Linked DNA regions of Homo sapiens. The protein of the gene in region 1 interacts with the protein of each later gene in a biochemical or structural test. Each region holds a gene or a part of one and is shown on either strand. Other genes may lie near its edges.

The links. The genes of interacting proteins can lie anywhere in the genome.
Region 2: the proteins of LYN (region 1) and PAG1 form a complex in vitro, tested with the Homo sapiens proteins (one study listed by BioGRID).
Region 3: of the proteins of LYN (region 1) and CD22, one has a biochemical effect on the other in vitro, tested with the Homo sapiens proteins (one study listed by BioGRID).

Annotation. Positions count from the first base shown.
Region 1 is NC_000008.11:55,882,752-55,890,031, reverse strand, and holds part of LYN (tyrosine-protein kinase Lyn), read right to left. Parts: intron 1-7,280. UniProt on the Homo sapiens protein: Non-receptor tyrosine-protein kinase that transmits signals from cell surface receptors and plays an important role in the regulation of innate and adaptive immune responses, hematopoiesis, responses to growth factors and cytokines, integrin signaling, but also responses to DNA damage and genotoxic agents.
Region 2 is NC_000008.11:80,969,048-80,976,327, forward strand, and holds part of PAG1 (phosphoprotein associated with glycosphingolipid-enriched microdomains 1), read right to left. Parts: 3' UTR 1-7,280. UniProt on the Homo sapiens protein: Negatively regulates TCR (T-cell antigen receptor)-mediated signaling in T-cells and FCER1 (high affinity immunoglobulin epsilon receptor)-mediated signaling in mast cells.
Region 3 is NC_000019.10:35,324,496-35,332,207, reverse strand, and holds the start of CD22 (B-cell receptor CD22 isoform 1 precursor), read right to left. Parts: upstream 3,022-7,712; 5' UTR 2,978-3,021; intron 190-2,977; 5' UTR 168-189; coding exon 134-167; intron 1-133. UniProt on the Homo sapiens protein: Most highly expressed siglec (sialic acid-binding immunoglobulin-like lectin) on B-cells that plays a role in various aspects of B-cell biology including differentiation, antigen presentation, and trafficking to bone marrow.

The DNA of each region.
Region 1 (7,280 bases):
GTGCTGGGATTATAGGCATGAGCCACTTCACCCAGCTAAGCAACTTGCTTTTGATAACAATACCAATGACTACCATTTAGCCATGTGCTTCACTTGTGGCTAGTTTGGAATCCACTGTAACCTAGAACACTCACAACAAACTGCTGAGGTTTAAACATGAGGACTCTGAGGCTAGCAAGGCCAGCACCTTGCCAGCAGCAGCCCACAGTTAGGAAGGGACAGACCTGGGATTTCAGCCCCCACATGAAATTAATTCGACACCCTGTGCTCTACCGCCCTGCCCTGCCTTACTTTTGACCATTCAGAGTGATTTCTGGGCACTCATTTGGGTGCCAGGGATCTCCTGAGCAAGTCGCCCACCCACAACCCTAGCAAAGTCTTTGATCGGCATTCTGGTTTGTGAACAATCCAGAGAGAACAGAGCACAATAAACTCCTCTAGGATAGAAACCTCCCACTTATTTATGTTGGTATTCCCCCAAACCACCCACTATCATGACATACAGCACTCGATAAATATACTTGGGCTGGGTGTGGTGGCTCACGCCTGTAATCCCAGCACAGCACTTTGGGAGGCTGAGGCAGGTGGATCCCTTGAGCTTAGGAGTTTGACACCAGGCTGGCCAACATGGCCAAACCCCATCTCTACAAAAAATAAGCCAGGCATAGTGGCACACACCTGTAGTCCCAGCTACTTGGAGGCTGAAGTGGGAAGATGGCTTGAGCCCAGGAGGTCAAGGGTGCAGTGAGCTATGACTGCACCACTGTACTCCTGCCTGGGGTTACAGCCTGGTCTCAAACTCCTGAGCTCAAATTATCCTCCTGCCTTGGCCTCCCAAAAAACAAAAAAATTACGCAGGCCTGGTGGCGGGGCCTGTAATCCTAGCTACCCAGTACTGAGGTGAGAGGATGGCTTGGGCCTGGGAGGTGGAGGTTGCAGTGAGCCGAGATAGCACCACTGCACTTCAGCCTGGGCGACAGAGTGAGACCCCATCTCAAAACATACAAATAAATAAAGAAAGAAATACACGTGAGGGAAAATTTTTGTTACATACATTGGGCATCTATCAAATTTGAAATAATACAAAAAGCCAGTGTGGTTCTGAAAGACAAAAATCAACTGCTATGGTGCCGCATTTCATTATACCAACAACCATAAACTCCATATTAAAATTTTGCTTAAAACCAGGGATTCGGCCAGGCGTGGTGGCCAAATCCCTGGTGAGTGAGATCGTACCACTGCACTCCAGCCTGGATGACAGAGTGAGACTCTGTCTCAAAAACAAAACAAAACAAAAAACCAAGGATTGTGCCCATTACTGTATCTGTCACTCTCCAGGTCACTTAGGGGAGGTGTCAAGTACCTACTTGCAGATGACGATTACAAGCTGAAGCCTATTGCTGTCACAGAAAACAGAAATAAATGTTACTTTCTAGCTTCAAATTAATCTCTAGAGAAGTAGCCTTGAGTCATTCAACTCTCCACCTACTCAAAGCATTAAGTCAGTGTTCAACGTGTCTTCGCTCTTGGCTATGTCATAAATGCCATATTGTAAAAGAGTGTAGGCAAGAAGTTGCCTGTGATGGACAAAAAGATTAGCTTCATACTAAAAGGCTCCAGTGATTCCCCTTCGTTAATGCCATGAAGTCCAACATTTAGTATTAGGGCCAAGCACCCTCCAAGCCTGCCTGTGGAGCCTCCCACTGCCTCTCTGGAACAAGCTCTGGTAATGTGGAATGACCCCTGCATAGTCAGGCTGTCCTTCCTCAGGAAAGCCCCTTCTTCCAGGGTGTGTGGCCCACTCCCTTCAGGATTTCCACCAACATGGCAGGTGTGTACCCCAACTCCTAACACTGTGCGGGACTCCCAGTAGCTACCCAGGAAAAGTTTGCTAAACTGAATACTAAACATAGCAGTGGAAGGTTCTTTAAGAAAATGTTCTATTTACAACATTTACAGCGCATCAGCTCTCCTGAGACAGGACTCTTACAATTATATCCATCAAGCGTCCTTCAAGTCACTCTAGCTCCAAAGTTCCCTGTCTGCTTCCACCTGCCTTCTGCAGTCCCACTGGCTTCATTCCATTGCTCCTTATATCCTGCCGTTTTAAAATCATATAAGGAGCCAGGCGCAATGACTTATGCCTGTAATCCCCGGATTTCGGGAGGCTGAGGCAGCCGGATAACTTGAGGCCAGAAGTTCGAGACCAGCCTGGCCAACACAGCAAAGCCCTGTCTGTACTAAAAATACAAAAAGTAGCTGGGCATGGTGGTGTGTGCCTGTAATTCCAGCTACTCAGGAGGCTGAAGCACAGGAATCACTTGAACCCGGGAGGTGGAGGTTGCAGTGAGCCGAGATCACACCATCACAGTCCAGCCTGGGTGACAGAGCAAGACTCTGTCTCAGGAAAAAAAAAATATATATATATGTGTGTGTGTGTGTGTGTGTGTGTGTGTATATATATATATATATATTTATATTTTTATATGGGATTTATGTATATATTTATATGTGGGATTTATATATATATTTATGTATATATGGGATGCTCATTCTTTTAAATATAAAGACGTACAGAAGTAAAAACAGCACTCAACTGTCACCCAGAAATAATCACTATTAAGATCTTAGTATAAAAATTGTTTGAAATGCAGTTTATAGATGATGTGTCCATATATGAATATTTTATTTCAGAAATGGTATCATGTCATCTACTAGTTTGTGTTCAGCTCTTTTGCTATTGTTTGTTTGTTTGAGACAAATTGCACAGGCTGATTTCGAGCTCCTGAGCTCAAGCAATCCTCCTGCCTCATGCTCCCAGAGTGCTGGGATTACAGGCAAGGGCCACTGCGCCTGGCCGCCTGGCCGTGTTCAGCTTTTGAAAAAAAATTTTTCATATTAGTAACTGTAATTGAATGTTTTATCTTTTAAGATATTTACAAAGTATCCCATTATATGAATGTGACTTAATTTGTGTTTGTTTAATAAACCTCCCTATTGGACTGCCCATCTCTGTACGTTGGAAGGGGGGATGAAAATATGTTGATTAATGGATACAAATATACTGTTTGATAGAAGAAATAAGACCTGGTAGGGTGACTAGAGTTCACCATTAACTATTGTGCATTTCAAAACAGCTAGAAGAATTCAAAAGATTCAGCATTTAAAAAGAAAACAAATATTTAAGGTGATGGCTATCGCAAATACTGATTTAATCTTTACAAATTATATGATGTATTAAATTATCACATGTGCCCTGAAACTATGTATATCTATTATGCATCAGAACAAACAAACTCTGATGGAGCTGGCCAATCCTACCTCAGAAAAGCTGCTCCAGGCCACATTCCCCTGCAAGTTAAGGGGAGGGGCTGTTCCACCAGATTGTATTTTCCTTTTTCTATTTTGTTTTGCCTACAGATATGTGTATTTGAGCACAAGGTAAAATGTTTCTTGCTATGGGTTGTGGTCAAATAAGTTTGACAGGCTGGGCGCGTGGCTCATGCCTGTAATCCCAGCACTTTGGGAGGCCGAGGCAGGCAGATCACCTGAGGTCAGGTGTTCGAGACCAGGCTGGCCAACATGATGAAACCCTGTCTCTACTAAAAATACAAAAATTAGCCGGGCATGGTGGTGCATTGGTGCATGCCTGTAATCCCAGCTACTCGGGAGGCTGAGGCAGCAGAATCGCTTGAACCTGGGAGGAGGGGTTGCAGTGAGTGGAGATTGCACCATTGTACTACAGCCTGGGCGACAGAGCGAGACTCCATCTCAAAAAAAAAAAAAAAAAGATGTTTGACAGCCACTGTTCTATCCCAAGAATTTAACAAGGAATTTAACAATTTTTAAAATAGTCCTGAATTATTATAGTTAGTATTTAAAAATTATTATGTAGCCTGAACATTAAAAGATTTCGAAACGTCTACCCAAGAGTTTCATAACACTTTCCATGACGGGGAATTTCAAAATGTACATTTTTCCGTTGCTGAAAAAGTCAGGCATGGCCAGGGTGGGCTTCGCAAAGCAGGCTCTGCCCTTAAGACTCTAGACTGCTCCTCTCTCCCACCCCGCCCCACCCCTCACTTAAGGGCAAACCGAAAATGCAGAGGGCAGCAGAGGGTAGAAAGAACCCCGAGGAAAACGCAGCATTGGGTGGTAAGGAAGGTGGGGCTGCAGGCAAATGACCCAGGGGCCTGGGGTGGAGGAAGTATCACTTCCTTGCCTGCCTCCTCTGGGGCCTTTTCTCTCCAGCATCGGGCTACAGTTCTGCTCTCCGTGACACAGCTTCCCCCTGGAAAGCAGAAGTGGTCCTCCCTCTCCAGAGAGCCTCTCTGAGATAAGCTTCTCCATTCCCCTCACCTCCGTGGGGGTTAACATTTACAGGAAGAGTGGGGGCACCCAGAGACCCAAACACCAAGAAGACGTCATTGCTTCAGTGGGAGGCAGAATGAATACACACCCATCTCTCCAGTCTCACTGTACCAGCGCCCAAGGGTAGGCCCAAAGACCACACGAAGACCTCCCCACCAGATGTTTTACCAATGGAGGGAGGAAAGCGGGGACTGGAAAGAAGCTTCCAACCAGTATGGTCTGGTGTCAATAAAGAGGAGTGAGCAAGATTTCAGATGCTCACAGAAAGGTGTGGGCAGGCAGGCAATATGTAACTTTGCCTGAAGCATGGACTGTAGAAAGGAAATGAGACCAACTAAAAAACTATCTGAGCTGTGAAGACTTCTTCCCAGTGTTCTACAACCCAAAAGCAGAGCCTCAACCATCAAGAAACAGCCACTTAACTGGATTATTTAAATGTATCCCGATTCATGCAGTTCTATAGGATGTCATTTAAGTAGCAGCATTCTGAACACTGAGCATTTACAATAATGAGGTTAACTGACAATCTCTTCCCATACACGGTCAGCTCATGCCAATTCCTGGTTGAAGAAGCCTTTGTAAGATGATAGGGAATGAAGTGGGGAGAGCAGAAGAAGGGGTACTGGAAGCCTGAGGGTTAATAAAGCTCAGTGAAAGAGCAATGCCATGGAAGAGTTCTATACCAAGGAAAACTGTATCCTGAGTGTAAGTACAGCTTTTAAGAAATAGCTCTGTGGCAAATAAGGAATGCTGCCAGCTAATTCAGTAATGAGAGAAAATGAAGTACAGAACAGGATGAAGGGGATAAACAACAAAGGCTACTACAGGCCCTGCTCTTGTCAGCATGGATGAGGCTTTTTAATACATCATCCCAAGTATTTAAACTTGCTCTTCTAAATTACAAGACAGGGCCAGGCACGGTGGCTCACACCTGTAATCCCAGCATTTTGGGAGGCCGAGGCGGGCTCACCTAAGGTCAGGAGTTCAAGACCACCCTGGCCAACATGGTGAAACCCATCTCTACTAAAAATACAAAAATTAGCCAGGCATGGTGGCGGGCGCCTGTAATCACAGCTACTAGGGAGGCTGAGGCAGGAGAATCACTTGAATCCAGGAGATGGAGGTGCAGTGAACTGGGATCACGCCAAAGCACTCCAGCCTGGGTGACAAGAGCGAACTCTGTCTCTTCAGTGGGAGGCAGAATAAAAAATAAAGAGAGCCCTTCCAACTAACTTAAGCCAAATATACCCCAGAAAGGCCAGGCGCAGTGGCTCACACCTGTAATCCCAGCATTTTGTGAGGACGAGACGGGCAGATCACTTGGGGTCAGGAGTTCAAGACCAGCCTGGCCAACATGATGAAACCCCATTTCTACAGGAAATACAAAAATTAGCTGGGTGTGGTGGCACATGCTTGTAAGTAATCCCAACTACTCAGAAGGCTGAGGCAGGGAGGATTGCTTGAACCCAGGAGGCGGAGATTGCCGTGAGCTGAGATTGCACCACTGCACTCCAGGCTGGGCGACAGAGTGAGCCTTCATCTCAGAAAAGAAGAACAAACAAAACAACAACAACAAAAATCTCAAAAGGTCCAAGTCTTTAAACTGACAAAATTTCTAATCCCTCCATTGGCAGATTTCCATACCATTCTCTACACATGGGTATCTCCCCCGAAAGGGAACTTATTCAAAATAAATTTTAGAAATGATAATGGAGTGAACTTAAAGTTTCACAATTTAAGTATCAGGAAACCAGACAGCTGTAAGAAATCTTTCAGTATTTCTGACTGGAAAAAAAAAACCCAACAACTTCCTCTTCCATGTTCTTCTCTTCATTATCAGCCTTAAAAGATGGGAGGCAATGTATATCTATACTGTTGGCCTAGAACAGTGCCTTGCACACAGCAGGTGCTCAAAATGATCAGGTGTTTTAATGTGCGTCCTATGAGCCCTGTCTCCTTAATTTATATTTTCACTTAAATGATGCTCTCACTGATAAAACAACCAGGAGGTTGGCAAAGTTTACAGGGAGACACTCCCAGCACAGGTCGGGGAAAGTCCTTTTGCAAAGTATTACTCAGGTACTTCTGTATTAACCATTAAGCAACTGATTGCCCCCAAGACAGTCACTAGGGCTGCTCGGACAGCAGCCAGTATAGGTGTCATCTTAGCAGTTACTGGAGACCACCCTTTCCCACCCCCAAGCAAAAAGCAGTGCTAAAAAGCACAGAAATTCATTTCTAGAAGACAGCTTGAAGTGCCCAGCTTGATGGTGCATCTGCTATGTCCTGAGCAGTTAGCCACTTAGTTCAGACAATTACCAAGTGATAAAAGAAAATTAACTCATGATTTCACTTTTAAAATGTTTGTTAAATGACCTATTTATTTGCTTTTAAGCACAGATGGTCTGCAACTTAATGATTTTTCAACTTTACGATGGTGCAAAAGCATTAGGCATTCAATAAAAACTGTACTTCAAGTACCCATACAACCATTTCATTTTTCACTTTTAATACAGTATTCAATAAATTACATGAGCTATTCAACACTTTATTATCAAATGGGCTTTGTGTCAGATGATTTTGTCCAACAGTAGGCTAATGTGAGTGTTTCGACCATGTTTAAGGTAGGTTAGGCTAATCTATAATGTTTAGTAGGTTAAGTGTATTAAATGCATCTTCTACTTTCAGTATTTTCAACTTACGATTGGGTTTATTGGGACACAGCCTCATCATAAGTTGAGAGGCATTTGTAATTGAGCACACACTACAAGTCCAAAGGTGGACAAGTAGAAAGAGCCAAAAAACATACCTACTACTCCTAATGGTACCGCTTAACCAAGCCTGTGACCTTAGACAACCCCCTGAATCTTTTTCTGTATCTGTCCCTCTCCATCCTATAGGAGCCACAA
Region 2 (7,280 bases), about 25 Mb from region 1:
CAAATGTTTGCTGACTTGAACGTAAGGTTCAGCTTTCCTGATGCTTTTCACATTGCTTCTCCTCAAGACATGAGCATTGCTGCAGGCATGGCCATCTTCCAGGACATGGGCGGGTAGTGGCACATAGGAATTAAATCCTAGCATGGCTCCAGGAAAAACAAGACAAGTACTATACTCAAAAAGTAAAGTTAAAAAAAGCAAGCATGCTTAAGGGATGGGTCATGAACACCACATCAGGTTCATTTATGAGTCTTATATTAAAAATACATAGAAGCTTGTCAAAGGAATGCTCAAAATCCTCAACCCATAGACTCAGGCTTTTGGTCCCAGCCTCTTCTTCCAGAGAAGGGCACTGCTGTCTTTCAGGGAAGCCTTCACTACCTAAATGAGGAGCTAAAGATTAAAAAAAAAATTCTCTTTAAGCTTAAGAAAAGGAAATAGTTTGCTTTAAACTCATGGTTTCCAACTTGTTGAGTTAAAAACAAACCAAACCAAACCAGGACATGACAACAAGATAGTTCTGAACTGTAGGCTCTAGGGAGCAACTGGTCCTTCTTTTAGCTTTAACTGTGTCCTATTTAGAGTGCCTAACAGGTATACTAGGGGAACTTTAAAAAACTAAATGTATAAAGAGAATGAGCAGAGATATCTGTTCTGCTAATTTTGAAAAAAAGTTACACTCTAAAATGTCCATTCAAAGAATTAACTGTGATGACTTACAGCAAAGTTTTACAAAACCAAATGAAACACCCTGGCTCCTGAAGTATGTAGAAAATGGGAACTTCAGCAGCTGCACCTCCAATTCACCTATCCTAGGACCTAGAAGGTGCTTGGTTTCTCACTCCAAAGTCAGGCAGTTTGCTATAAATGGCCAAGTTATTCTCCTTATCTGGTAGCTCTACCTTTGCATGCTGAAGCACTCACAGTTTTCTTAGGTCCTGGGGGATCAGAGCAAACTGGCTGTAACTTGACATCATCCTTAGGCACTGTTTCCTGGGGGAGAGGGTGCAATGGCTTCATGGTGAAAACATTTTACACTCAATTTACTTTAAAAAGGTTTTTTTTTTGTTTTTGTTTTTGAGATGGAGTCTTGCTCTGTCGCCCAGGCTGGAGTGCAGTGTTGCGATCTCAGCTCATTGCAACCTCTGCCTCCCAGGTTCAAGTGATTCTCCTGCCTCAGCCTCCTGAGTAGTTGGGACTACAGGCACATGCCACCATGCCTGGCTAATTTTTTTTGCATTTTTAGTAGAGACAGGGTTTCATCATGTTGGCCAGGCAGGTCTCAAACTCCTGACCTCAAGTGATCCACCTGTCTCAGCCTCCCAAAGTGCTGGGATTACAGGCATGAGCCACTGCACCCGGCCTAAAAATGATTACTTCTTATAAAAAGGATTTCTTCCCCTTCACAACACTCAGCTTCCTTTTTCTTTCCTGGTAACTATGGGTCTGGTGTTGTCATAAGGATCTACCTTCCACATGCTGGACAGTGGGGGTTGCTGCTTGAGGAGACTCAGGCCAGATACAGATCACTGTGGGGAACACTAAGCTTACTTGGTTAGAGCACGGCACTAACATTTCTGCCTCTGTGAGTTTGATTCCACCACATAATTTTTTAAAAGTGCTTTTCCATGGCCCCTTAGTGTCAACCATTCTTACGAAAGATGTGAGCAACAGTGTACATGTTTTGGCAAAAGTCGTGACAAATAGCACCAGCATCTGCCGCCCTAGGTGGACCTGTGGCCTCATCTTGGCAGCCTGTGAGTTGGGCAGAGCTGTGACGAGGCATGGTTCTGTGCCGGCTGGCAGGGTCTGTGATATGGCAGCACTGTGATCCGTACTGGAAAGACATAATGGCATGTCCTGTGAACAGCAGATACAGAAGGCTGAGTGGGGAAGCGACCCAGGGGTATTGCCACACAAAGCGATAGGCCAGCTAAGTACCAGGAGACAAACTGAGGTGGGAGGAAATAGTGACTTCATGGCCTCATTCTTTAGACTTACTCCTTAAAAGGACTAGATCCGGGGAGGGAAAAGTAATCACAAAATGTTCAAGCTAATAAGAGATATTTTTGGTCTTAAAACTAAGGTTTAAAAATTCCCAGTACTGAAAACAACTTTCTCACTCTTTTGTGAATTGGACAATTTGACCATTATGAAGATCTTTTGAAACAATCAATGAAAATGCTACTAAGTGTCATGAATTATTTTTTAATATTTTTGAGTAAGGGGAGTACTTTAATACTGATTGGGCCCATGTAATAGACAATATGTCACTTTTGGTGTAACTATTTTTATGAGGAAAAAACATTAACAATGAAATGCCAATTCCTATTTATAACAGACCTTTTTTGTTTAGATATATTTCAAGTTTCCCCAGAAAATATGAGGCATGTTAATACAACACAATTATTTAAAAGGTAACAACATTAAAACATTTTACTGCTGCCAATGTAACATACAGACATCTGAGAAATGACAATTATCAACCTTTGTAATACATGATTACGCAAGGTGATATGAGACAACCCAAGGGTAGCACATTTTAAAAAATACCCACAGTATATAACTGGCAAGCCAAAAAAACTTCCTGTATTAACAGAAATGATTACTGAATTGAACGCTTTTTAAAAAATGTCTTTTAAGCAAAAATTGTATTTCTCTTTTCATGTTACATTAAGAATTTGGAATATTATTTTTCAGTTAAGTCAAAGAAGAACTTGAAAAAAATAATGACATACTTCACAAATAGTAGAGACTAGATGTAAACACAGACCTAAAAATGAGCAGTAGGATAAAAAAAACCATGAATGTTTGTTCTCTTCTGGACCATGATTTTAAATTTTAATTTGGTAATTCCAGATAAAGATTCTAATTTATCATGGTTTCTGGACTGATCTCTTTAAGTTAAACACTTTCAGTCTAAGTGTGTTCAACTGGCCTAAAGCCACTGTCAGGAAAAATGTATTTAGGAAAATATACAACACAGGGCAAGAAAATACTACTGTAGAATAAGGAATTTAGATTTCACTGCAAATAAAGCCATATTTGATATTAAAGACACATGTTCCTATTTTCACATCAGTCATTTATTAACACCAAACATTATACTTTAACTTTTCCCCATTACACAGTACAATAAGCCTGTCAAGATTTCCAGGAAGTAATCATCAGTACCTACTGTGCTTCCAGCAGCCAAAGCTAAGCTGGCTGGGTACCAGAAATCAACACCTTCAGGAGAATGGCATCACAAGATTGCATGGACTCATATTAACTATTACAAGGGGCACTGGAAAAAAAGGTCATTTGCTCATTTACAAAATCCTAATTGAACTAAAGCTCTGTAATTATAGCCATGGTATCAGACCAGCTTTTTCGCACATCCTATCACATCGCTGCCTGCTGATGTTTTACACTGCCTATAAAGTCTCATAATTTTAAAAGGGAATGAAACAGAATGCCACAGGTGACCGACCTCTGCTCCTGCTACTTGGGAGTCACGTTGTCTTGGCTTCGTCCTGGCTCAAGGTTACTAGTCTCTTGCTGCTTTGGGCCAAATCTCTTATCTCTTTACATTTCCTCCTCTCAGGCTGAGTCAAAAGTAAGTCACATGTATAACAAAACTGTCTTAAAATACCACTGTTTTTCAGCCAAGAGAATTACGGATGCAATTTAAAGTCTAAATGTATTAATTGGAAAAATTAAATTAGAGCAACTCAAGGTTTTCCTGTAATTACCAAATGAAACTGATTGAAAAACTGTTCCTTCTAATTCTGCTTTTCCAACAAAAGTTCATCACACTAGCAGGATAAACATTCAAAATACATAATAGAACATATCCTAATTAAGCACCAGAGTTGTGTCAGAGCCAAGTATATACACACACACACGTATACGTGTGTGTGTGTGTGTGTGTGTGTGTAGTTTATTACTGGTTAAGTAAATGCTCTAATTAGCAAAAATCATGAGAAATATATACAGTGATATAATGCGGTTAAATTTTAGTTCTCTGTGTTAACTACTTACTGTTAATTTAGTACTCAATTAGAATTAACTCTGGGATTTTGAGGGCAGATAAATCAGTAATTAGCCTTTATCCCAGAAAGAATAGTGGTAGCTTCAAAAGCTTCAACAGACCTAATGATGTAATTTATTCAGGACAGAAAAAAAAATATGTAGCCAACATTCTTGCAAGAATTACTTTCTTATGGAATTTAAGATTTCCTCAAATATTTTCTTTTCTATATAGCGTTTTGTTCTTGTGTAGTTATCTGCCTAGGATACAGACAGGATATTGAGACTATTTCAGAAAGTAGACACACTAAAAACATTTGACAAATTAAAAAAATTTTGCATAAAACAGGTTACCCTTTCCTGCTGACTATACTTAAGAAATACCAAAGTAGCATACAAAATGCTTCTAAACTTTCAAAATATCTGAATAAAAACAAAGATCCTACTTTTAACTGAGATAGATTTATAATTCTTACTTACAAGATAAAAAAATTTCCTAAAATTTATTTTTAAATTTCACATAACCTGCTATAATTCGCTGTAAAAAATGGATGTCAAAATAGAATTTTAAATATACAAATTGTTTTTGATAACTACCTTTCATACATTTTATTTAAACTGTAGCATTAGCTCAAGATGAAACTTTTTAAAAGAAACCATAGGCTTTTGTCCAACTCAAAGATTCAAGCCCAGATTCTGAACAAAGTAAATGTGATGAAATTTATGAAAAACTATACTGTACAGTCAAAACAGTGATGGTGCCTCAGTAAATAACTTCAGTAAAATATCCAGTGCTCCAAATAGCTGAGCCATCTTTCTAAGGTTCACTCTGCTTCTCTCCCCCAGCCCTCATGGCCTGTGCTACCATCTATTCTTTTAGCGTTTATGCTGGAGGGCCTTATAGTTCCTTTAAAAGTACACTGAAAATACTTTATATCACAGCTTATTCTAACCACTGGTTCTCAAATTAAAAGGTATATTTCAGTGCATATTTCATAGCCACATTGCAGAACTAATATTTGAAAACTCTTGGGGGAAATTTTGGTAACAAAATTGCAAAATGACATGATTATTTATGAGCTTTCTATAAAAAGTTTTTTTTTTTTTTTTTTTTTTACTTTAGAGATCATACCTACTTTCCTGCCTTTTTGATAAGTAAGGCATGAAATGAAACAAAAGTTTTGAGCTGTAAGGTGCCTATAAAGGATGTCACTACAGCATTCACAATGCTAGGTGTGTAAGATGACATGGCTGTTACCATGTACTAAAGAACCCCATCATGTGAGAGATCGCTCAAAGTCATTAACACAAAGCAGTGAAAATCATCCAGCAAAGCAGTGCTTATGAGAGACTAGAATTCAGAGAAATGCAAGGTACGAACTTCTCTCTAATCCAAGGGTATTCTGCTGTGATCTTCTAATCAGTGATGATTGTGCTTATGCACACGACATCTTCATGGGAGAGACCAGGCTGATTGCAAAATAATGACAACCAACCAGTTTACCTCAACATAGCTCACTCTGCAATGTCAGACATGCAGTGTAGAGCAGTCACAAAGTCAAGCCATGAATACAGGGATGGAAAAACATTCCAGTGAGCTGGTCTCTACAATTTTTAAGACACTTCATCCTCCCAATTATATTCTTTGTCATAAAGAGGAAAAACAGCAAGATTATTAAATCCAAAAAGTCACAGATGTCACAAGGGGATGAAATAATTTCCTCATTTTTTTTCTTTATCAGTGTAGGAAAAGCTGTCTTTCCATAGCCCACACTCATAATAGCACTTCAACTAGGCTCCTTTGAAAATGAAAAGTGAACAAGTTTCCTAATGCTGGCCTTATAAGATCTAAAGAGATGATTAAATTCAAACCAGGCTGAGCTCTTACTCTGAGCTATTTCAGCCACTGATGTTTGTAAAATATAGGAAGAAGATTCCAATAGGCAATTTGCATTGGCAAGCACTGGACTACAGAATTCATCACTGTTTTCTGAAAAAATATAATTAAACCTTAATGGAATTATGACACTTTTATGAGGTTTATAATTCACAGCCACCTCTCATCATATTTTGTTCTTCTTTCCATTTTTACCATTTCAAATATTGCAATATTGCCCACCATAAACCACTGAAAATGATTATTTATGTATATTCCATTTATTTCTCTAGGGGGTCTAGGTAATTTGAATCAGGAGCTCCAAGTACCATTTAAAAAGGTGAGTCTTTAAAAACCATCAGTGTTTTAAACACTTGATTAGAAAAAAGATAACAGCTCCTTGTAGTGATCTAGCTTATGTGCTTTATGGTATCTTTTCAAAAGGAGAGTATAAATCATTGTACATAAAATCAAAATAGCTAATATACATTTTTTTCTGGCACTTTTGAGAAATTAGGCATTGAACATAAAACATCTTATAAACTTACATAACAAAAATAAATGTTTACATTTTAATCTTAGATTACCTTAGGGTAGCAGTTAACTTATGAGATGCCACACTGTTGGTGTGGGCAGCGGAGACCATGGGAAATACACATTCATGTCCACAGCCCTTCAGCGATGGATGCATGGCTGCCGTCCAAATATGTGGTCTGTGTCCCAACATAAAGATTAAGGCTCTCTGTTTTGAAGGAATGAGTTCTGGGCTTAAACAAGTCTAGAAGTACCACAATACTCATGGAAAATACTGAAAAGATTCGGACGAGTTTTCAAACACTGGGGGAAACACGTTTTTGACTAGAAAAATAAAATAAAGCATCTAAAACTGACTTCAAGTACTTTGGGGAGAGGCTGCTGATATCGAATGCCAAAATAAGAAGGAACAAAGACAGAAGAGACTCCAGGGACGTCCCTCCCCATCCCTTCACCCGCAGGGTCCAGATCCCCAGGTGCTGATGCGCAACTCTTTGGGGAGGACTGGCGAGCTGGGCAGAAAGCAGCAGCCATGGTTTGTCACCATCCTAAAACACCTATATTGAGGGCAAAGGCCAAGCTTTGTGTGAAAATTTCCTTGGGATGAACCACAGGAATCTGGACATTTCAAGGGGGAAAAAGCCTTAAAGTCAGTAGCAGACAGAGAAAAGGAAAGAGAGGAAGAAAAACCTGCTTTTCTGAATGGCAGTACTTTAGGCCGGGGGCATTGTGGTCCTTGGTGAGTGCAGCTTTTCCATACAGCTTGGCTTTCCTCACTAATGAGATGAGACCACTGACAGCTGGGATCTTTTGTGGGTGGTGAGGGTGCAGCAGGGAGATGTGCTTGGGTGTACCTGTC
Region 3 (7,712 bases), on another chromosome or scaffold:
TGTACATTTATCTATACACACCGCTGCCCCCACCCTACCCTATGTTGACGCCTCTCTGCCTGGGTCTTTCCTCCTCCTCCAGTGCCCACTGACATCCCAGAACCCCAGTACTAGCCCAGGCCACAGTCCTTACCCAGGAGCAGGAGCCAGGGGCCGAGGAGATGCATGGTGTCGTGTCTGGGTGCAAGCCTGAGCAGGGGAGAGTTTGTCTTTGAGCCATCTGGCCGCTTACTTCTTCCACGTGGCTTTTCTTGCTCACCCACTGAGCTCCGACCCTTCCCCTGGATCCGGGAGGACCGGGTCTGGTTGCATTATGGGGATGTGGCATTTGGGATGCTCACGGAGTTCTTTCTTTTTTTTTGAGACAGAGTCTTGCTCTGTCTCCCAGGCTAGAGTGCAGTGGTGTGATCTCCGCTCACTGCAACCTCTGCTTCCCAGGCTCAAGCGTTTCTCTGGCCTCAGCCCCCCAAGTAGCTGGGTAAAGGCAGGTGCCACCACGCCTGGCTGATTTTTGTATTTTCAGTAGAGATGGGGTTTCACCATGTTGGCCTGGCTGGTCTTGAACTCCTGATCTCAGGTGATCTGCCAGCCTTGGCCTCCCAAAGTGCTGGCACTACAGGTGTGAGCCACCACTCCTGGCCGGGAGTTTTTTCTGAGTGTGCTGCACCTCTCCTTCAAACTGAGAGCCCTGCGGGGGCAGCCTCTCTCTCTTCCCAGAACTCCTTCCTTTCTTCCTTCCTTCCTCCCTTGCTTGCTTTTTCCCATCCATCCATTCATCCATCTCTAATTTTATAAACTTCCTGCCTGGCTCACAGGCTTTGAGTGGCACCAGACCACTGAGTGCTTTGAATGCCAGGCCCCGGGTAACGTGGAGCTCTCTCTGGTGCTACTCATCAAGGATTATACTCAGGGACAGACATGGTCAAAACTTGGTTTGAAAGACCAGGTAAAAAGGAATTCTAAAACCAGTAACAAAGTATGGGTGAGCCAGGCGCAGTGGCTCACACCTGTAATCCCAATACTTTGGGATGCCAAGGCAGGCAGATCACTTGAGGTCAGGAGTTCAAGACCAGCCTGGCCAACATGGCAAAACCCCATCTTTACTCAAAATGCAAAAAATTAGCCAGGCGTGGTGGCGTACACCTGTAATCCCAGATACTCATGAGGCTGAGGCAGGAGAATTGCTTGAACCCGGGAAGTAGAAGTTGGAATGAGCCGAGATCATGCAACTGCACTCCAGCCTGGGCGACAGGGCAAGACCCTGTCTCAAAAAGATAAAAAATAAACTAAAAATGTACAGAGCTGGTCAAACAAAACCTATCTGTGGGTTAGGTTCTGCAACTGTTGCCCATCTTTCTTTCTTTCTCTGCAGTGAGCTTGTCCTCTACCATCCCTGACCTCTGCATAGAGTTATATTTACATAGAGTTAAATTTAAGTCCCAATTTACATGATCATGGCCCTCCGTGCTGGCCCCCGGGGACCCTGAAGGATGTGACAGCAGAGTGTGTCTCCGGTCTCAGCACCAACCCAAGCCCCTCCCACTCACCTGCCAACATTTCACACGCATCAATGTTCCTCTCTCTGTCTGTTTATCTCCTCGGGCCACATGGCTCATGCCAAAGGCTGCTGGGTATCTGTTCATGGGTGTGCGGAAAGCTAAGCTGCTTGCCGACAGCAGGAAGGGGGTCTGGCCTGGGCTAAGCATGAATTTGGGGTGCAGGGTCTGAAGCTGAGGCAGATTCCCCAGGCAGAGCTGACATCAGCCCCGCAGGTACTCATCATGTCACATGCAAAAAACATCTTCAAGGTCACATACACTTGAGAAAGGCAGGGTAAAAGAGTTAAGTAAGATTCTTTTTTTTTCTTTTGAGACAGAGTCTCATTCTTCTGTCGCCCAGGCTGAAGTGCAGTGGTGTGATCTCAGTTCACTGCATCCTCTGCCTCCAGGGTTCAAGTGATTCTCCTGCCTCAGCCTCCTGAGTAGCTGGGACTATAGGCATGTGCCACCACACCCGTCTGATTTGTTTGTTTGTTTGTTTGTTTTAGTAGAGATGGGGTTTCACCATGTTGGCCAGGCTGGTTTCAAACTCCTGACCTCAGGTGATCCCCCCAACTTGGCCTCCCAAAGTGCTGAGATGACAGGCGTGAGCCACCGCACCTGGCTTAAGTAAGATTCTTTACTGCAGGACTTTAAAAACCTTTCAGTAAACTCTATCTACACCATTAATCTCTAGACATGGGGATTAGAGTATAGTATAATACATTGTCCATACTTCTTTGGCCATGGGATCTATTTTACATGTTCCATAAAAAACTTAGCAGGGTTGCAGAGCCAGAGTTCTTTGAAATCCCCTTAAGGTTACCTAAGGGGTAACAAGGGCTGTGGCAAGGACTAGACTCCGTTCCCTGCAGCCAACACTTGCCTCCAGGAGCCGGGCCATTGTCCCTCCTCTGCCAGCACCCTCCAGCCACAACCTGCTCTGGGACGGGCTGGAGCATCCCAGCATGAGTGGGAGATGGGCGCCTCCAGAGCAGGACTGTGTGCTGCCTCAAGGAGCTCCAGGAGTCTCTGGAGCACAGGAGTAGGGCCCCAGGCCCGGGAATTGGAAGGCTGAGGGTGGGGTGGAGGTTAGGGACAGCAGTTATTATGCACAGAGGCTCAGGACAGGGCCATGCTGTCCAGACCTCCTCAGTCCAGGCCTGTTGAGGGCCTTGCAGAACCTTGGGGCTGACCTCCCTGGCTCCTTCTTCCCTCCTGGGCATCCAATAACCTACCCTACTCTCAGAAGACTCAGCAGGCCTGGCAAGGAGGATGCTCAAGACAGGGGTCTGTCTACAACCTGTTGTAACACCGGTAAGAGAGAGCCAGGGAGGTCCCCACTGTGTTCCCAGCTCTGGGAGGTATGCCTGGCCCATAACTGCTGTTCCGTAATAACTTGCTTGTTGAATGCAAAATAAAAGCAAAATGATTTTTACCTGTTTCCGCGTGTCTTCCCTCTTCAGGGACCCTGGCAGCATCTGAGAGCAAAAGGAGAAGTACAGTAAAGTCTCTGGTGACAGAGGTTTCCCCTCCATGGCCACACCCCCTGCTTCTCTATGGCTCTGAGGGGGACCAAGCAGCACCGTGATCTGGGGAGTGGGGAAAAGAGACGATTGAGGGGGATGCGGGCTCGGAGTCAGATTGGAAGACTCGAATACGTATGGGCAGTTCTTCCTTTCCGTGTATGGGTTTGCAATATCAGATCAGTTTCAGAATGGGCTCCTCCACAACTCCCCCTCTACCCAGCTCTCAGGAAATGCGAATGACTCAAGCCAAGCAGGAGAACTGCAGCCCGCTGAAAAAGGCACAGGCCTACCTGAAAGTATTTGTAGTTTAGTGACACCATCCAGTTATTACCATTTCCACTCTTTTCATCATAGGCATAAATGGTGGGGAATCTGACCACCTACACTGAAGCCCCCAAGGGTTGAGGGAGGAGCACATAGATATTGAGGAGGAAAAAGATATCTCGGCCGGGTGCGGTGGCTCATGCCTGGAATCCCAACACTTTGGGAGGCTGAGGCGGGTGGATCACTTGAGGTCAGGAATTCGAGACCAGCCTGGCGAACATGGTGAAATTCCGTCTCTACTAAAAATACAAAAAATTAGCTAAGTGTTTTGGCAGGCGCCTGTAGTCCCAGCTACTCAGGGGGCTGAGGCAGGAGAATCACTTGAGCCCAGGAGGCGGAGGCTGCAGTGAGAAGAGATCACACCACTGCAGTCCAGCCTGGGTGACAGAGTGAGACTCTGTCTCAAAAAAAAAAAAAGAAAGAAAGAAAGAAAGAAAGAAAAAGAAAAGATATCTTGTAGGACTGGGCATGGTGGCTCATGCCTGTAATCCTAGCGCTTTGGGTGGCCAAGGCGGGTGGATTGCCTGAGCTCAGGAGTTCAAGACCAGCTTGGGCAACATGGTAAAACCCCATCTCTACTAAAAAAAAAAAAAAAAAAAATCCAAAAATTAGCTGGGTGTGGTGGCGGGCGCCTGTGGTCCCAGCTACTCAGGAGGCTAAGGCAGGAGAATCACTTAAGCCCGAGAGGCTGAGGTTGCAGTGAGCAGATCGCGCTGTGGCACTCCAGCCTGGGTGACAGAGCCAGATCCTGTCTCAAAAAAACAAAAAAGATATCTTGTAGGAAGTGTTATTGAATGGAGAGTCTTTAGGCTGAAACCTCATCACCTTTATAATCCTGTAGCCAGCGAGTGTCTCAGGAGCAGAACAGACAGCATTGGAAGCCATGCACATCCTACAGATGAAGAGGGATGCGCTGAGAGGTCTTCACTCCAGCACCACTGCCCTCTATGGGCAGCTGGCCATAGGGAGGGAAACAGAGAGAGGGAAGAACACCTTCTTCCAAAAGCACCGATAGGGCTGGGTGTGGTGACTTATGCCTGTAATACGCTTTGGGAGAGCAAGGCAAGAGGATTGCTTAAGGCCAGAAGTTTGAGACCAACCTGAACAACACAGCAAAACTCTGTGGGGCTAGTCAACAAAAGCAAAAAATGAAAAGTAGCTGGGCATGGTGGCCCATGCCTGTGGTCCAAACTACTTGGGAGGCTGAGGCAGGAGGATCGCTTGAGCCTGGGAGTTCAAGGCTTCAGTCAGCCATGATAGCACCACTGCACTCCAGCCCAGGCAACAAAGTAAGACCTTGTCTCAGTAAATAATAAATAAATAAAATGAACAAAAAGCAGTGATGTTCTGGAAAGATGGAGTAGATGTATTTATTTATTCTGCCAAGTATAACTGAAAACCTTGAACGTGACAAGACAAGCATAAGAAGACTGAAAGATGGAGAGAAGCAGACTGGTTAGGAACCTCGGGACTTAAGGAATGGTGGTGAATTCCCTGGGATTTCTCTTTGCCTCATATATCTCAGGCTGAATACTGGAGAAGCCAACAACTGAAAATGCCAAGGGGCACAAACAAGAAAAAGTCCCAACAGAACAAGTTCTAGCAAAACTATGCTTTTCTAGCCAAAGAACGAGGAAAGGGGCATCCTAGAAAGACAGAGCTCTTTTAGTCCATACCTGCTCCGCTCCATCCAAGTTCCATCATCACCCTTGTCAGCAAAGGCCGGATGGAAAACCTAGACATTCACCTTCACCAGGCTGTAACAAAGAACCCTAGGCCACTCCCATACTCAGCCAGAGTGATGCTAGAGTTGGAGCTGGGACATTCCTCCCCACTGGGATCACCCTCCCCCGATGTGGTGTTGGTGGAAACCATGTGGGCAGCCTGGACATCCACTGCCACCCCAATGCAGAAATGAGGCATTCCACCCGGCCCCATTGGAGTAGTGTCAAAGGGGGCCTGGTGGAGAGTTGGGACTTTCGCCACCACTCAGTGGTAACAAGCACCCCCCTCTCTCTGCCACACACAGTGTCAGTGAAAGCCACATAGGGAGCAGTAATGAAGCATCCCTCCCACTCCCAGCCAGGGAGTTGTCATGGATTCCTAGTGGGGAACCTGAACTTCTACCCTTACCAAACAATAACATGGAGGCCTCATCTCTCCCAACCCCCCAGGTTCAGGAAAGGCTGGATGGAGAACCTGGACTTTTATCCCTGTCTGGAAGCAATCAGGCAGTGCCCTACTTTATTTCGCTGGAGCAGTATAAAGGGAAGCCCACTAAAACAAAATATTTAAAGAAGATCCAGAATCTTATAACACAGTGCCCAGAATATCCTGACTTCAATGGCAAATCACTTGTCATACTAGGAATCAGGCATTCTCAAACTGAATAACAAAAGATAATTAACAGACACAAACATCAAGACGACACAGATGTTAGAATTATCTGACAAAGATTTTGGAGCAGCCATCATAAAAGTGTTTCACTGAGAAATTATAAATGTGCTTGAAACAAATAAAATAATAAAAAGTATCAGCAAAGAAATAGAAAATATAAAGAAGAACCAAATGGAAACTTTAGAACTAAAAAATACAACTAAAAAATACAAGAGCTGAAATAAAAACCATAATGGATGGGCTCAATAGCAGAATGGAGAGTATAGAAGAAAGAAGCAGTGAAACAAAACGTATAACAATAGAAATTACCCATTCTGAACAATGGAAAGAAAATAGATGAAAGAAAATGGAACAAAGCCTCAAGGACATGAGTAACTATAATAAAAGAAGATCTAACATTTTGTCATTGAAGTCCCAGAAGGGGAGGAAAAGGAGGGTGGGCCTTAAAAAAATATTCCAAGAAGTAATGGCTGCAAATTATCTTCATTTGACAACACACACGCACAACATATGTCTACAGATTCAAGAAGCTGAGCGCATCACAAACAGGATAAACCCAAAGAAATTCATGCCAAGACACATCATAGTCAAACTTCTAAAAACAAGAGGCAGAGAAAATTCTCGAAAGCAACCACATAAAAATGCAAAAAATTAGCCAGTTGGGTGGTGCGTGCCTGTAGTCCCAGCTACTCAGGAGGCCAAGGCAGGAGGATCACTTGAACCTGGGAGGCGGAGGTTGCAGTGAGCTGAGATCCTGCCACTGCACTCCAGCCTGGGCAACAGAGCGAAACTCTGTCTTAATTAAAAAGTAAAATAAAATAAAAACAAAAAACCTCTGGAAGATAACATAGGAGAAAATCTGTGAGACTTAGAGCTTGATGAAGTGTTCTTAGACATGACACCAAAGGCATGATCCCTAAAAAAATCAATCCAACTTCATCAAAATTAATTTTTTTTTGCTCTGTAAAAGACCTAGTTAAGAGAATGAAAAGACAAATTACAGACTAAGAGAAAATATTTGCAAACCACATATCTGACAAAGGACTCCTATCTAGAACAAATATATAAAGAACTCTCAAATTCAACATAGAAACACTACATAAAAAAATCAAATCATCCAATTAGAAGACTGGCAAAAGATATAAAGAGAAATTTCACCCAAGGGGATATATGGATAGAAAATAATTATCTAAAAAGATATTCAACATCACTAGCCTTTAGACAGGTTAAGACCATGATGAGATATCACTACTAACATCTATAAGAACAGCTAAAATAAAAGATAGTATCAAATACTGGAAAGATGTATGGAAACTAAATCATTTATATATTGCTAGTGTGAATATAAAATTGTCCAGCCACTCTGGAAAAAAGTCTCAAAACAGTTCCTCCAAAGATTAAGCATAGAATTACCATACACTCCTGCATCTCCACTCTTACATATATAACCAAGAGAAATAAGAACATGTTCACCCAGAAACTTGAACACAAATGTTTACAGCAGCATTATTCATGAAAGCCAAAAAGCAGAAACAACCCACATGTCCATGAAGAGATGAATGAATAAAGAAAATATGGGAGACCTAAACAATAAAATATTATTTGATAATAAAAAGGAATGAAGTACTGATAGATACTACAACATGGATGAACTTTTTTTCGAGACCGAGTTTCACTTGTTGCCCAGGCTGGAGTGCAGTGGTGCCATCTCGGCTCACTGCAACCTCTGCCTCCCAGGTTCAAGCGATTCTCCTGCCTCAACCTTCTGAGTGACTGGGATTACAGGCATCCGCCACCACGCCCAGCTAATTATTCATATTGTTAGTAGAGACGGGGTTTTACCATGTTGGCCAGACTGGTCCTGAACTCCTGACCTCAGGTGATCCACCCGCCTTGGCCTCCCAAAGTGCTGGGATTACAGGCG